Linked DNA regions of Homo sapiens: region 2 is reported to be linked to region 1. The links are microRNA targets in miRTarBase. Many come from high-throughput screens and were not tested one by one. Region 1 holds a microRNA gene; the other region holds the end of a gene's coding sequence.

The links. The annotated mature microRNA hsa-miR-4304 reads CCGGCAUGUCCAGGGCA and lies in region 1 at 2,872-2,888, opposite strand. An mRNA with a match to its seed (bases 2 to 7 or 8) in the 3' UTR can be bound and repressed. Matches are read on the target gene's strand: a 7mer-m8 pairs with bases 2 to 8, a 7mer-A1 pairs with bases 2 to 7 and ends in A, and an 8mer does both.
Region 2: the mRNA of AMZ1 is a reported target of hsa-miR-4304. Seed matches in the 3' UTR shown: 7mer-A1 at 4,269-4,275 and 7mer-A1 at 6,056-6,062.

What each region holds. Positions count from the first base shown.
Region 1 is chr12:123,007,831-123,015,166 of GRCh38, forward strand. It overlaps MIR4304 (microRNA 4304), which reads right to left and starts at 2,898; the gene lies at 2,837-2,898. It overlaps PITPNM2 (phosphatidylinositol transfer protein membrane associated 2), which reads right to left. Exons shown (of 26, transcript NM_020845.3): 4 at 5,998-6,212; 5 at 4,783-4,904; 6 at 2,020-2,247. RefSeq lists an enhancer at 3,732-4,652.
Region 2 is chr7:2,712,178-2,719,513 of GRCh38, forward strand. AMZ1 (archaelysin family metallopeptidase 1) reads left to right here. Exons shown (of 7, transcript NM_001384743.1): 7 at 153-7,336. The coding sequence ends at 701. Among named protein-coding and RNA genes, the nearest start is that of AMZ1, 28 kb to the left of the region's middle. RefSeq lists a silencer at 965-1,164 and an enhancer at 3,400-3,449.

The DNA of each region.
Region 1 (7,336 bases):
CAGTAATGAGGACAGCTGAGAGCTGTCCCAACCCCCAGGAGTTGCCTCCTCAAGGCCCCCAAGAAGCCCAGCGTAGCTCACATGAGTTCACGAGATCATCCCCGTGATATTATAGGACTAGTACTCACAGTTGTCATCAAGCTCCACCTATGTGCCACACCCCATCTTCAGTTCTGAACCCACGGTCTCGGCCCACAACAGTCCGATAGGATCGGTGTCATTACACCCATTTTACAGAAGAGAAAAGCAAAGCTCAGTGAGGCTGAGAGACCACAGAGCCACTACGTGTGAGTCAGGCCTGGACTCTAAAGTTGTCTTCTTTCTTCCCACCAGCCACAAGCTCCTGCTTTCTGAGGGGAGAACTGACTTTCAGGGAGCTGGGGAGTCTCTGCAGCTTGGCCAGGATCTCAGCTGCTGGGTAGGGCTAGGGAGAGCCAAGCAGACCCACAGAGCCAGAGTGCCAGGAGCTGCAGCCTTAGTAGGTCTGCTGGGTGTCCTGTGCAGGGCTGAACCTAGAGAAGCCTTGAGGAGAGGGTGGGACGAGTCACCAGCGCTGATGTGTTCAGGTTCCTGGAGGTCGAGAAGGGCGGTAGGGGACGCCCTGCCCAGGATAGGGGAGCCCCTCCCAGTCCTGCCCACATGCTCCTCCACTCCTCATATTGCCTGGGAAGTGAGAACCACCATTCCCATTTTGAGGCTTCAGCACTGGGGTTGCAGGTCCCAGTCTGTGAGCCCTGGGTAATGGAGAGAGGCAGGTTTGGGCCAATCTAAGCTCCCATGGGGTTAGAGAGATGGATTGTGGGAATGCATCCCTCTCAATGGATGGGACAGCTTCCTTCTCTTCCTGCCACCTCTCCCAGCTGCTGATTGACACCGCAGCAGCCCTTCTGGAAAAAGAATGGTGGACAATGTGTCTGAGTGTTCTGCCCTGGGGATGGAGGTGGTGACACCAACACACCCATCGAGGCCCTGTCCACGTCTTCGCTTCTCCAAGTGGAAGACCGCGTCCTTGGACCCCAATCCTTTCGGGTACACATCCACCCTTCCCTTGGGGTCACAGCCCCAACACTGAACATGGCTGTCTAGTGAGACACCTCCCTTACTGATGCTAAGAACAGGAGGATGTTAATTCAGGACAAGGGTGGCTGGGATGGGAGGCAGATCTAGTTCAGCCCCAGTGTTGGGTCTCTGCTTCCTCCTGCATAAGTGGAGTGACAATGCCTACCCTCATGGGTTATCGTAAGCTTACGTGACAAGCGTGATATGTACTGTCAACAGTGTGGCTCTGTTCAATCTTAAATAAAGTCACCCTTGCTCATGGCATCACAAGGTGTCTGGCTGGGGTGCCTTTTGGGTCATGGGCCTCAGGGACCGGAACCAGCTCTTGGAATGACATCATGCTATGACCTCGGCAGAGGGGGGTTTAGGGCTCTAGGTGAGGAAATGGCACTCACTGCACCAGGACCCCCAGGCCATCTGCTGTCTACCTGTTCCATGGGCACCTACTCTGGCTAGGCTGGTGTGGGTGTGAAGGCCACTATGATGTCTGAGACACCCTGCTCCTGGGAGCTTCCAGCCCAGTGAGGGAGGCTGAGCTGTGGCCCTGGGTTCTGGGCCTCCTTGAGTAGAGGAAACAAAGGCCTGGGAGCCCAGAGGCCCAGATGAGCAGCAGGGAACCTGTCCCCAGGGGCTACTCAGACCTGTGGAGTGTGGGCTACTCTTTATCAAATGCGAACTAGGTCAGGAATGTCTGGGGGCAGTGCCTAGGGCTTCTTCATCCAACAACACACACTGCTTGTCTCTGCAGATGCTCAGTAAGTATTCATGGATGTTCAAGATAACCCATGGCTGGCGGGTAGTGGGGAAGCTGGACATGGGCTTTGGTGTCACCTTCCCAGAACAAAACAGAAACGCAGACTCCCAGGCAGACATGCAAAGAGAGGAGGCAGACAGGCAGGTGACAGGAGACAGAGGGGTTGGGTAGCCCAGCCACTGCCCACCTGGCATGGGTGTGCTCACCGGTGTCGTGGATGAACCTCTCGATCTTGGACTGCATGCCCCAGTAGCGGAACTCCACCTTGCAGAGCTTGTATGCGCACATGATGGGGAAGACCTGCTTCTTGTACTCCTCGATCCAGTTCTCGGACAGGGGCCCCCGCTGGGTCTTGGTTGACTGGAACAGCTTGGGGTCCTCTTCTGTCTTATACTCGTTGTGGGGCACAGGGTCTTTGACAATGTCGATGAAGTCTGTGGGTAAACCCTTAGAGTGGCCACTTCTGCCCTGACCTCAACCCCCACCCACATCTCTCCATGTTCCTCCACCCCCAAATCCTCCCAGGACTCTGGGCCTTGCCCTGCCAGAGGGACCCTGGGAGTGAGGATCATGTTCTGGGCAGCTCTGACCTCAAAATCCCTGACAGTGGGGCCTGCAGTTTCCTTGGTGCATTCATTCATTCAGATAAGGGTCTTGCTATGTTGCCCAGGCTCAAGCACTCCTCCCACCTCAGCCTCTCAAAGTGCTGAGATTACAGGTATGAGCCAACGAGCCTGGCCCCTTGTTGCCTTTTCAAGTCATTTCAGCAAAACCCATGTTCTGAGTGCACCCTACCTCTTGGCAAAGCAGATAAATAAGGCAATGAGGAAACACTGGGGAGATGAATTTCCATGAAGAATACAGGGTGGGAGGAACAGAAGAGAAGGCTAGGAAAAGCTTCCCACAAAGACGGTGTTTCAGCCAGAGGGGTGGAATCAAGAGGTCAAGAATGTCCCAGCAGCACCGGCCCTTGAACAAGAGGTGGGGGGTTCTGGGGAAGGAACCACCAGGGTGTCTGCGTGAGGAGAAGGATGGCAGCAGTCACAGAGCAATGGGGATGCCCTGGACATGCCGGCCACTTCTCTCCAAGCTAGGAGACCGGACAGTTCCCTGAGAGCCAAGTGGACCCAGGTATAGATCTGAGGCTGAGAGGGATGCAGGCAGGCTGGCCTGTTGGAAAAGCCTTCCTGGACAGAGACCGGAAGAGATGTCTGAAGAGGCCTACAGGGGGTGTCTGGCCAAGCTTGCTCCAGGCTAGGCCTGAGAGCAGGGGCAGATGCCACAGAGGTAGGAGTGCAGAAAACAGGCTTAGGGGCTGACAGGACCTGGTGAGGGTGACAAGAAGATGGGTGATGGCTCTGGGCAGGACGTAGGCCAGGCCACTTATGATCACAGGCTTCCCCTCCACAGCAGCATCTCAGAGCCCTCCTGTGTGCTCACTCCCGAGGCACATGTGTGTTGGGCAGGACTGGGGCACTCACTGGGTGAGAAAGAGCCCCAGTAAAGGGTTTGTGGCTCACAGAACCCTTTTTTGCGGTCGGTTCTGCTCTAGCCAGGCCCTTGGCTGCCTCATTTTCTCCAATGTGTGGGCCCCTCTGTATCCAGGCTGCAGACTGCAGACACAGACATCAGCTCCACCAAAATCAGCAGGGTCAGGAGCAAGTCTGAGGACCACAGAATGCCAGGAGGGATGAGCACTCTTCCTGGAGCAGACCATATGCCCTGCCCATGTGAGCCGGCAAAGACCCTGCATGGGAAATGTCACAGAGACTTAGGACCCATGGCAGCTGGCCTCAGAGGGAGCCTGCAGAGCTCTGGCAGTGTCAGGGCTGCCTGCTATGGGAAGAGCTATGTACACCCCAACCCCAATTCCTACGCTGACGTACTGAACACAGTGCCTCAGAATGTGATCTTATCTAGAGATAAGGTTTTCAAAGAGGTAATCAAGTTAAAAGTAAGGCCATTAAGGTGGGTCCTAACCCAGTATGACTGGTGTTTTTATAAGAAGAGGAGACAAAGAGGTAGACAGACACAGAGGGGAGTGACCATGTGACGAACGAGGCAGAGATTGGAGGGATGCTTCTACAAGTCAAGGAGCACCAAGGACTGCCGGCAAGCAGACACTGAAGGGGCCTGAACAGAGTCTTCCCCAGGGGGAAGAACCCACCATGCTGTGATCTCAGACTTCTGGCCTCCAGAGCCCCGAGAGAATAACTGTGTGTTGTGCAAGCCACTCATGCTATGACGCTTTGTTTCGCAGACCCAGGAAATCCCAGCAGAGGTGGGGGGGTTGGGCCTGGAGCAGCTCCTGGGCCATGGACACCCACCCCCAACCCGCATGCCCTGCCTGAGATGCCTCCACAGTGACTTGGGCCTTGTACCCAGAGGCTGCAGGAGGGTGGCTGCTGAGCTGCACTGGCCCACATATGTGTTTTGTTTCACTGGCATACATTTATTTACAAAGATTTTTAATTGGTTGCTAACATTTAGTATTGGGAGATTTCTCATGAACATCCTTATCACTGGCTTCTCTTGAAAATGAAGATTTAACAAATGGGGCCCATCCCCTACATGTCACTGTCATCTGGAGGTAGTGGGTAGGGCACCCACCATCAAGAGGACATAGACCCCATTATGTGCCGGGGGCACTTGTGCATGGCTGTCAGCTAGAGATGGATGCCCGAGCCCATATGTACTTCTGGGGAGTAGGGATCCCGCAAAGGGATGGAGGGAAGCAGCTCTGGGTGGAAAAGGCACTTGGACTTGGTGTATATATCAGGAGAATGGGGCTGAGAAGGCCTGCCCTGCCTCCCCCATGGGCCCCATGCTTGCTCCAACTCTGACCTGCCTGCCCAGGACAGGGCCAGGTCTGGAGTCTACCAGGTGTGGGGAAAAGGGGCAGGACAAGAGGGACCTGTGGGTAGGAAACCCAGAGTACAGCCCTGTGGGGCTCTGCCCTTCCTGGTTACCGATTGTCAGCTGGTTCTTTTCCACAGGAGAGAGGTTGAACACGTCGGGGTTTTCTCCAGCATCAGTTTTATAAAAGGTTTCAATGTCGATGGAGAATTTCTCCACGAAAGGACAGGTGAACCTGTGCGGAAAGGAAAGCACTCATCAGGACCTGTCCTTGGAGAGGCCCAGTGTCCTGGCCAGGGCCTGTTGACCCACTGGGTAGGAGTGGAGCTGGTGAGCGGGCATGGAAGGAGGGTGGAGGGTAGCCGAGACTTGCCTGCCCTGTCCACCTCTTGGATCGCCACTTTGTCCCAAGAACAGCCAGGATGGGGGCAGGGAAGGATTTAGGGGGAGCAGAAGACAGTGTATCCTCAGTGGCTTCTAGAAGCCCCATGTCCAATGTCCACAGCATGGCAGGAACACGGGCACAGCTATGGCAGCATACTGCCAAGCAGGAGGAAGCTGGGGTGCTCCATGGGGCATGCCACCTCTAGTTCCCAAGAAGCCAGCTCTGACAATGGGGGAATAGCCTCTCTCTAGGCTGGAGATGAGCTTAGAGGGGAAAGTACTACTGGGAAGAGGAAAAAGCTCCGTGGATCCCTCAGCAAGCTCCAGGTGCCCACCAGCGTGGGGAAGGGAGCCCCAGGAGATTTGTGGGGACCCCACCTGCTCAGCAGTAGACAGCTTGTGGGACCAGCTCCCATCTATTCAACTCAGCAGTGATAAGCTACACACTGCAGGGCACAGAGTGAAGAACCCTCTGCCAGGGAATCCCAAGGACAGCCCTGCTCAGCATGGGATGTGGGACAACACTGTCACAGCAGCTGAAGGTCTCAGAGTTGGAAGGGACTTCTGGGTCATCTGTTCTACCCTCAGTTTCTTTCCAGAAGGCTGTCTCAGCCTTCTTAGGGAGCCTGAAGTGGGTTTACATTCCCTGCATCTTCTGGAATGGCAAAGGAGTCTCCAACAGCCCTCGCTTGACTCACGCCTTCATGGCCTCCACACGTAGGCAGTCAGGAGGCATCTAGGGGTATATCCTTCCCTCTCTTGCCTGTGCCTGCCCTAGGTGACCTTCGGGGCACCTGTATGGAACAAAGCCTGGGTTCCCTGGGGTTATGGGTTGTTGAACCTGCTTGAAGGCTGATCCCATCCCCTGGATCTATGCCACAAGATTGCTTCCCGCCAGATGGCATGTGGAGGTGGGAGGCACATGGAGGCCAAAGCAGGCGCACCTGGTTCGGGTGTAGGGGTAGGCATTCCAAGACTCCTCCACCACCCGCAGGGCTGCCTTGGGCAGGATGGAGCGGAACCAGCTGGGAATGTGCATGCCCACATGATACACCTTGTGTGTGTACTGCCCAGAGCCGCCTGGGCCATCTGTGTACGGCCGGTTCTCCAGGATCTCCACGCCGCTGCCTTCGCCATATGTCTCGTTACGGCTCTTCTTCTGTGGGGACAAAAGCACCTGCAATGTGTGTGGGGCCAGAGCACTCTTCAGGAGGGAAGGGGCACAGGAGACTGGGCCCAGGGGTGTGGAAAGGGAGGAGGGGCTTTGGTCAACGAGGCTGGCTCCTCCTGTGTCACTTCCAGGCCCCCAAATCTATATGCCAGGGCTTGTGCAAGAGGCTGAAGGGGCCACAGACTCCCTCTCCCAGACCTAGTGCTGCACACACAAGTCCTATATTCTGACTCCCACCTGTCCCAGGACTAAAAGCGTTCCCAAGATCAGGAACAAGACAAGGATGCCCACTTATTTGCTTTTCCTCAATATTGTGCTATAAGTTCTAGCTAAAGCAATTAGACAAGAAAAGGAAATAATAAGAGGCAACTGGGCACATTGGGTCACGCCTATAATCCCAGCACTTCAGGAGGCTGAGGTGGGCAGATCACTTGAGGTCAGGAGTTTGAGACCAGCCTGGGCAACATGGTGAAACCTTGTCTCTACTAAAAATAGAAAAATTAGCCAGGCATGTGGCACATGCCTGTAGCCCCAGGTACTCAAAGGCTGAAACAGGAGAATCGCTTGAACCCGGGAGGCAGAGGTTGCAGTGAGCTGAGATCACGCCTCTGCACTCCAGCCTTGGTGACAAAGTGAGACTCTGTCTCAAAAAACAAACAAAACAAAACAAAACAAACAAAAAGAATAAGAGGCATCCAAATTGGAAAGATAGAAGTAAAACTATTTCGATTTCCTGATGCCATAATCTTATATATGGAAAATGCTAAACAATCTCCACCAAAGCCTGTTAGACCTAATAAATAAATTCAACAAAGTTGCAGAATACAAAATGACACATAGAAATGAACAATGTCAAAGAAAATTAAGAAACAATTCCATTTATAATAGCCTCTGAAAGAATAAATACCTAGGAATATATTTAACCAAAGAGGTGAAAGACCTGTGCACTTAAAACTACAAAATGTTGCTGAAAGAAATTAAAGTTCTAAATAAATGGAAAGACATCCCGTGTTGATGGATTGGAAGATTTAATATTGTTAAGATGGCGACACTGCCCCAAACAACCTACAGATATAATGCGATCTTTATCAAAATCCCAGCAGCTTTATTTG
Region 2 (7,336 bases), not on the chromosome of region 1:
TGGTCACAAGAGCCCTCACACCACCAGCCTGACTCCCGCCCCTGGGTAACTGAGGACGGTGGGGTCCCCTTAGGTAAGGAGGTCTCCTGGCAGTTCCCTGGCTAGACAAGGGCTGGCACGGAGCAAACTCAGCCTGTGTTTCTCCCTCTTAGAGACTCTACACCTGGACTCAGGCGGTGGTGGGGACGTGGCCCAGCCAGGAGGCGGGGGAGCCGTCAGTGTGGGAGGACACCCCGCCTGCCAGCGCCGACTCGGGCATGTGCTGTGAGAGTGACTCGGAGCCCGGCACCAGTGTGTCGGAGCCCCTCACCCCTGATGCCGGGAGTCACACCTTCGCCTCGGGGCCAGAGGAAGGGCTGAGCTACCTGGCAGCCTCAGAGGCTCCGCTGCCACCTGGGGGCCCTGCGGAGGCCATCAAGGAGCATGAACGGTGGCTGGCCATGTGCATCCAGGCCCTGCAGCGGGAAGTGGCAGAGGAGGACCTGGTGCAGGTGGACAGAGCCGTGGACGCCCTCGACCGCTGGGAGATGTTCACGGGCCAGCTCCCGGCCACCAGGCAGGACCCACCCAGCAGCAGGGACAGCGTGGGGCTGCGCAAGGTGCTGGGGGACAAGTTCTCCTCCCTGAGGAGGAAGCTGAGTGCCCGAAAACTCGCCAGAGCAGAGTCGGCCCCCCGTCCCTGGGATGGGGAAGAGAGTTAGTACAGCAGGGGCTGCCCTACGTCTCCTTCCCTAAGGATGCTGGCCAGCACTGTCCAGTAGCTGAGGCCACTACTGACCTGCCAGGGATAAAGAGGAAGGGTCTGCCTGGGTGGTGGCTCAGGCCTGTCATCCCATCACTTTGAGAGGCCAGGAGTTTGAGACCAGACTGGGCAACATGGTGAGACTCTGCCTCTACAAAAGAAAAATTAAAAAATTAGCTGGATGAAGTGGTTCATGCCTGTGTTCCCAGCTATTCAGGAGGCTGAGGTGGGAGGATTGCTTGAGCCTAGGAGGTCGAGGCTGCAGTGGGATGTGATCATACCACTGTACTGCAGTCTGGGCCACACAGAAAGACTGTCTCCAGAAAAAAAAAAGTTCTTTGGAGAAGCCACAGACCACCTGTCTTCAGGCGCCTCCTTCAACTCCTGAGTCCCAGCCAGCCGCTCCCAGGGGCCTGCACACATGGAGAGGCCTCCCTGATCCTGGGTGCTTCTCGTGGAGTACAAGCCGGACTGTGCTGAGGTTGGGACAGAGCCCCCTCCCCTGCAGAGGCAGAAGGAAGCAGCGTGCGTCCTGTCTCCTTCCAGGCTGTGGGCCTGCCCTTCAGTTATTTATAGCTGGAGCTGGAGAGGCTGGCTCAGATGAGGAGTGACCCCGGGGGCACACAGGCTCCACACTGCCACCCAGCTTCCAAGGCTGAGTCTCCTCCCTAACGGGGAAGTGACGGGGTTTTGTCTCTATCATCTCAGGCGTCAACCACATGCACACACACACTGTCACGTTCTGTGGCGCTAACAGCATCCTGATCCTGACGGACTTCACCGGGGCTCTCCAGGCATCTCTTCTGACAAACACTGCAGGAGGTGAGGGTGTCTGACGTGCACTGAGGGCAGAGGCCCCCTTATTCCTGAGGCGGCTACAGCTCACCGTGGGGAAGATCAACTGTGGTGATGTTTTTGGGACAGTTTCTTGGCAAAGGTGGCCGCGCTGTCAGTACCAAGTAGCTGGAGGTGGTGATCAGATGATCTGTCTTTCCTTTTTTTTTCGGTCTAGTTCTGTCAGTTGCTGAGAGAGGGGTATTATTGCCATGGCTGGGCGTTTGATCTGTCTCCCTTTAGTTTTGCCGGATTTTGCTTCCTGCACTTTGAAGCTCCTTTACGTCCCTGCACATTTGATTGTTGTGTCTTCCTGAGGAATTGACCCTTTTATTGTCACACGTACCCCCTCAGCCTGTGGTGGAGGGTCTCTGGGAGAGAGACTTCCGGTTCTGACAGCGGAATCCCTTCGGAGTGACGAGGGCGGGGTCACAGCTCGCGCACCCTCATCTGGAGAGAGGCAAGAACAGGGCAGCTTGGACCTTTTGTGGGTGGGTGGCTCACACGGTTATGGAGGGCTTCTAAGAAAAACAAAATACAAAACTAAAACTAGAAGGGCTATGCAGGTGAGGTGGGCTGAGGCTTCCTTGTGAATCTGACATTGGTGGAGGCCGACTGAAGGCTCCCGGTCCTGGTCCCACTCCGTGTTGACTTCAGAGAAGCAAAGATGCAGCTCAGAAGTAGCATTAGGATCTTCGTCCCGTTCTCTTTTGCGTAGCTTCAAAAAGGCGTAACAGTGACCTGGGAGGGGAGATGAAGAGCTAGGCCTTTCAGAAAGTGACCAATGGAAGGTGCCGGCAGAGCACCCTGCAGTAACAGAAGGTGAAAGCCGGAGCCTGGTGGCTGTTGCTGCAAACAACCACCCAAAACTTAGTGGCTTAAAATCACCACAGTCTAGCTCATGAATCTGTAACTTGGGCAGAGCTCGGTGGAGACGGTTTGCCCCTGTGGCTCGACTGGAGTGTTCGTTCACACGGCTGCCAAGTGGAATTTGGCTGGGAATCTCAGGCCTTGGTTCCTGCCCACGTGAGACTCTCCATGGAGGAGGGGCATCTTCTTAGGAAGGCAGCTGCCATACCGTGAGGAAACCCGACAAACAGGGCAGCCAGAGCCAGACAGCAGGCTCCTGGTCCCAGTCCCGGAAAATGCAAAGGGACAAGTATGTGTTGATTTCAGAGAAGCTCAGATGTAGCATTAGGACCTTCATCCATACCCTTCTCTTTTGCATGGCTTCTAAAGGGCATGACAGTGACCTGGGAGGTAACTGTGCCAGAATAAAGAGGGGAGACGAAAAAAAGAGGGTCACTTTCAGAAAGGGACCTGGGCTTCCTCACAATATGGCGGTTGCCCTCCTAAGGTGGACATCGGGAGGGTCAGATGGAAGCTCTGTGGCCTTTCCTAACTCGGCCTCACGTCACAGAGCGTCACCTTTCCTGCACTCCACGGCGGCAGTGACAAGGACCCCACCCCAGGTTCACGGGGAGGGGACGTGGCAGGGAATGTGAGACAACACAATATTGCTGTGGCCATTCATGAACAGTCAGTCAGCCCCACTCGGCGTTCACTGTGGGGATTTGGCTGGTGCACCTGCGAGGTGGCCTGACCTGTTTTCCGATTTCCTTCATCTTCTGCAAAAGGTTAACCGCTGGAGTGATGCGAGATTAAACAGAGGTGATAAAAATAGAATGCCTGGCTCATGCTGAGGGTGGGAGCCCACTGGGGTTATGACCAAAGCCTCGGCGCTCTCTGTACCCGTGTCCTTTGACCCTCAGCTGTGATGTGTGTCCCAAAAAAGCGTTTTGAAGTGGGAAGGAGCAAACCACTAAAAAAAACTCCTTTTATCCGCAGCGTTTACCAACTTGCAGATGTCAGTGAAATTTTTTAAGACAGCTGTTAGAAGGACTGTTTTGAAATGCAACTTTGAGGAAGAGAAATTGGTTTCCCTCCTCTCCCCCGTGTTAGCCCCAGGTTCTGTCTGTGCTGTGGTGAAGAGTGACTTGGGACAGTCACCAGGAAAGACGCAAGGCAGAGGAGAGAGAATGAGGGCTGCCTTCTCGAGGAAGGTCACAGCTCACGAATCTTTCTAAACTTAAGTGCTGCAGAAGTTGAACTGAGATTAAATTTAGAGATGATGGTTTCCAAGACACACAGGGCCACGGTTCTTTCAGTTTTTAAACACGTGCAAAGTCCACTGAATTGCTTTCTCGTCTCATCTGTCAGAAGCCCCTGCATTCACAAGGATGGGTCTTCCAGCTTGACGATGACCTCTCTTCGGAGAGCCTCACCCATCTTGGTAAGCCAAGTCAGCGGGGCCTCATGGAGCTAAAAATAGTTTCAGGTCATGACAGATGTTATCTGTATTGCTGTGTGTGCGATGAGTCTGGGGAAGCTAACACATGCCTTCTGAAGTGGCTAGAATACACACTCCCACGTCACAGCCATGCTATGATGAAGGGGTGAGAAGCAGTGTCCCCTCTGAGGCAAATCTCTCTTCAGGCAGCCCCGCAGTCCTCTTCCGAAATCTCATTCTTTTCCCTCTCTTCCTCCCCAAAAAGCCCAAACTCATTGTCAGAGTGGGGAGAGGGGAGAAGCAGCATCCTGACTCCTGTCCATGGTGTGAACCCTGAGGGCACGGGACAGTGAGTGGAGCTCTGCCACCACCCGTTTCCAGAGCATGGGTGAGGAGGGAGGGATGCCGACCTGTTAATATTTGCTTCAGACCTTTCCCCGATGAACGAAATCTCCAAAAGCCTTAAACATAAAATGGCTTAGTCAAGCACGAGTGATAAAGCTGGGAGTCCAAATTTAGATCCCACCAAGTTCAAAGGGGGAGGCTAGAACATTCCAGGGACACACCTACACGCAGAGGGTCTCCATACAGTGCCAAGGGAGCTGCTCTGCAGACCCACCAGGCAGGGACGGCCAGGCCTCGGAGAGAGGGACCGGCTGCCCTGCCCAAGGCCCACCTGGACAGGCAAGTCTTCCCTAGTGGGTCAGTCAACTCCACCGCTTAAGGGGTCCTTCCTATGTAACGGAATTTTTTTACATCATCATCGAGTCTCGAAATGACCTGTAAGGCAGATGGCTGCATCCCCACCATATGGCTGTGGCTGTCGAGATGGGACTGGGAAGGGCTGGAGCCTCAGAAACGGCAGAGCGGAAGTTGAGGCGCAGTCTGTTCTTGCTTGAACCCCGAGTTCTCCCGCTGTTGTGCAGCTTTCTAAAAGCAAGCTGGAGCGGTCTGAGCAGGAAGAGAGTAAGAAGGCGCACGGACGCGGGAGGCCTGCACCCTGATCCCTGAGCAGCCCCCACACACCGGCACCCACGCCCCTCGGTTCTGATAACCAGGAGGCTTTCTGGCCCGTGCAGCTCCTTCGGACTCTGAGGAGAGGCCTGGGTGGGTGGCCGGCACTCTTAGGTGAGGTGCCAACGAAAACACCCCCGTGATTGCTGGGGCTTCACTGATTTGTTTTGTTTATAAAAGGAGGGCGAGGCCTGCACAGGAATATTTTTATCCCCGTGAAGACGGAGAGAATCAGGGCTTCGCGACGGGGCTCATAGACCTGAACTGGGTCTGCCTGCCTGTGTGCTGGAAGCAAACGACGGCCCGTCCTCTAAGCTGGCTTTGCAGCTCCAGTAAGAGTGAGAGACTCACGGGGGCCTGGCTGCCGTCCTGGGAGAGGCCCCGGGAACCGGCTCGCCCTGTACCCAAGGGCTCTCTGGAGCTCACCCCGCACGCAGGCTGCTCCAGAGCTGAAATCTAGCTGTGATCCCTGTGGGGCAACTGCACACAGAGGTGCCCAGTTTCAAGGAAACCTAAAGCAGCAGCAAATTTATGGCTCTTGGAACACGAGGCTGTCAAAGATAAACACCGCAGGGTAATCTAGGAAACACTTCCGGCTTGACTGTAAAGAGCCCTGGCCTGCGAACGCTGTTAAAAACAGATGCAGATCGCGGGTGGAGACGGCCGGCCGAGCCTTCCCTTTTCTGACATCCTACAGCAGCACCTTGATGAATGAGAACCCGGAAGAATGGAGGTTTATTTTTGAACTCAGCTTCTTGGGTAGGGAGGCAAATGAAAACAGGCTGATGTCAGGGGTTTATTTTAAAAAGCAATTTCCAAGAAGCGTCCTGGGGTCACCACGCGTTCAGTCCAACTCTTCCCCGCTGCAGTGTTCCCGTGACGATGAGGCAAATCCAAATAGTCACCGGAGTCGAGCAAACACGGCGGCCCCTGCCTCCCCCGGCGGCTCCACAATGGCCCTCAGAGGGTCCGCGGCAGCCAGGCCCGTCCAACCTCCTGCCCTCTCTGAGAGGGGCCCGAGCTCTCGCAAGATTAACCAGAGACGACACCTACCAGATTCCACCACTGAGGCCTCCCTCGATGCCTGCTCCCTGGGCTTTTTAATGAACGCACTTCTGTCACATGGAAACTGAGCCCGGCATGGAGTCACGTGGCTCCACCCTGGGGCTCCTCTGATGCCGAGAGCTCTGGCTCTCCTGACTGTGGGCCCAGTGTCCATTTTCTCTCTCAGGCAGGGTGCTCTGCCCGCCACAGTGTGCCTGGTTTTCTGGATACAGCATGACTGAACCGCCCCTTCTCAGCAAAGGCCAACACGTCTTTCTCGAGTCCAAGACCATCTCCCGTTCAAGGGCCCTCACCGCGCTTTGTGAGTCTGTCTCGTGGGCCTCCTTCAGTGGTCTGTGACCAGCGGGAATGAATGGGGACGTGTTTTGTTCAGCCCTGACTCTTGGACGCTGGTGGCAGCCGCGGGCGCCCACTCACCTGGCACGTGGACGAAGGTGATGAGCGCGGCTGACGGCTCCCGGGGGCAGTGTGGGGTCCAGTCTGAAGCCGACGCCCCTCTCGGTCAGGCTTTCAGCAGCAGAAGGCAGTGGACTCTTCACCATTTCTTCCAACACTTTCTCACGTAGGAGCTCCACTGTCCCTTCTAACAGGACAGGGCTTGTGCAGCCGGGCTTGGTCTTGTGGTCAGGGAGAAGCGGGCAGGCCAGGGCCGAGCTGCGTCCGGCTCTCAGGGACTTCCTCTCCCTGTGCTCTGCCCACCTGGGGTAGGCCTCTGGGAACAGGGGAGTCACAGAAACCACGGGAAACGGAGTGGGTTGGAAGAGGCAGAGAACACGCTTTTCTCAGGGTCGCTTAACACAGGCAGGGGTACAGGAGAGCTCCGGCCATTTATTCCAAATGTATGAGCAGGAAGGAAAGAGGGAGGGAAGCTGCAAGAACAGGCGACTTTTTTTTTTTTTTTTCCCCCCCATCTGAAGTGAGATCAAACTTCTACCACATTCTACCTGTGCCCTTCTGGGTGGGTGGTGGCCGTCCTCTTGGGCGCCCCCTTGTGAGGGCTCGAGGCCTTTACTGGATGGGCAGGATGCGGGCAGCAGCTTTGTCGGCTGCCAACCCAACTCCTCCGACAGAACGGCAGGTGGCCCCTGTCGGAAGGGGGGTGTCTCTTTATTCCTGCCATCCTCCGGCCGCCTCTCCCGCCTGCACCACTTGGAGGCAGTTGTTTCACGTGGGGCTCTTGATGGCATAACCTGATGTCTGTCACGGACCCCCAAGCAGGAGCAATGCCTAAAGAGGGCAAAGGCCCGCGCGCCTGGCAGAGCTCCCTCCTCTGCTCCAACAGCAGAGCCCAGAGCATCCCTTGGCCCGACGCACAAGTCCCACAATAGCCTCTCCCAACGGGAACGACTTAGCCCTAATTACATGAGCTTTGATCACCGCTCGATTGTATG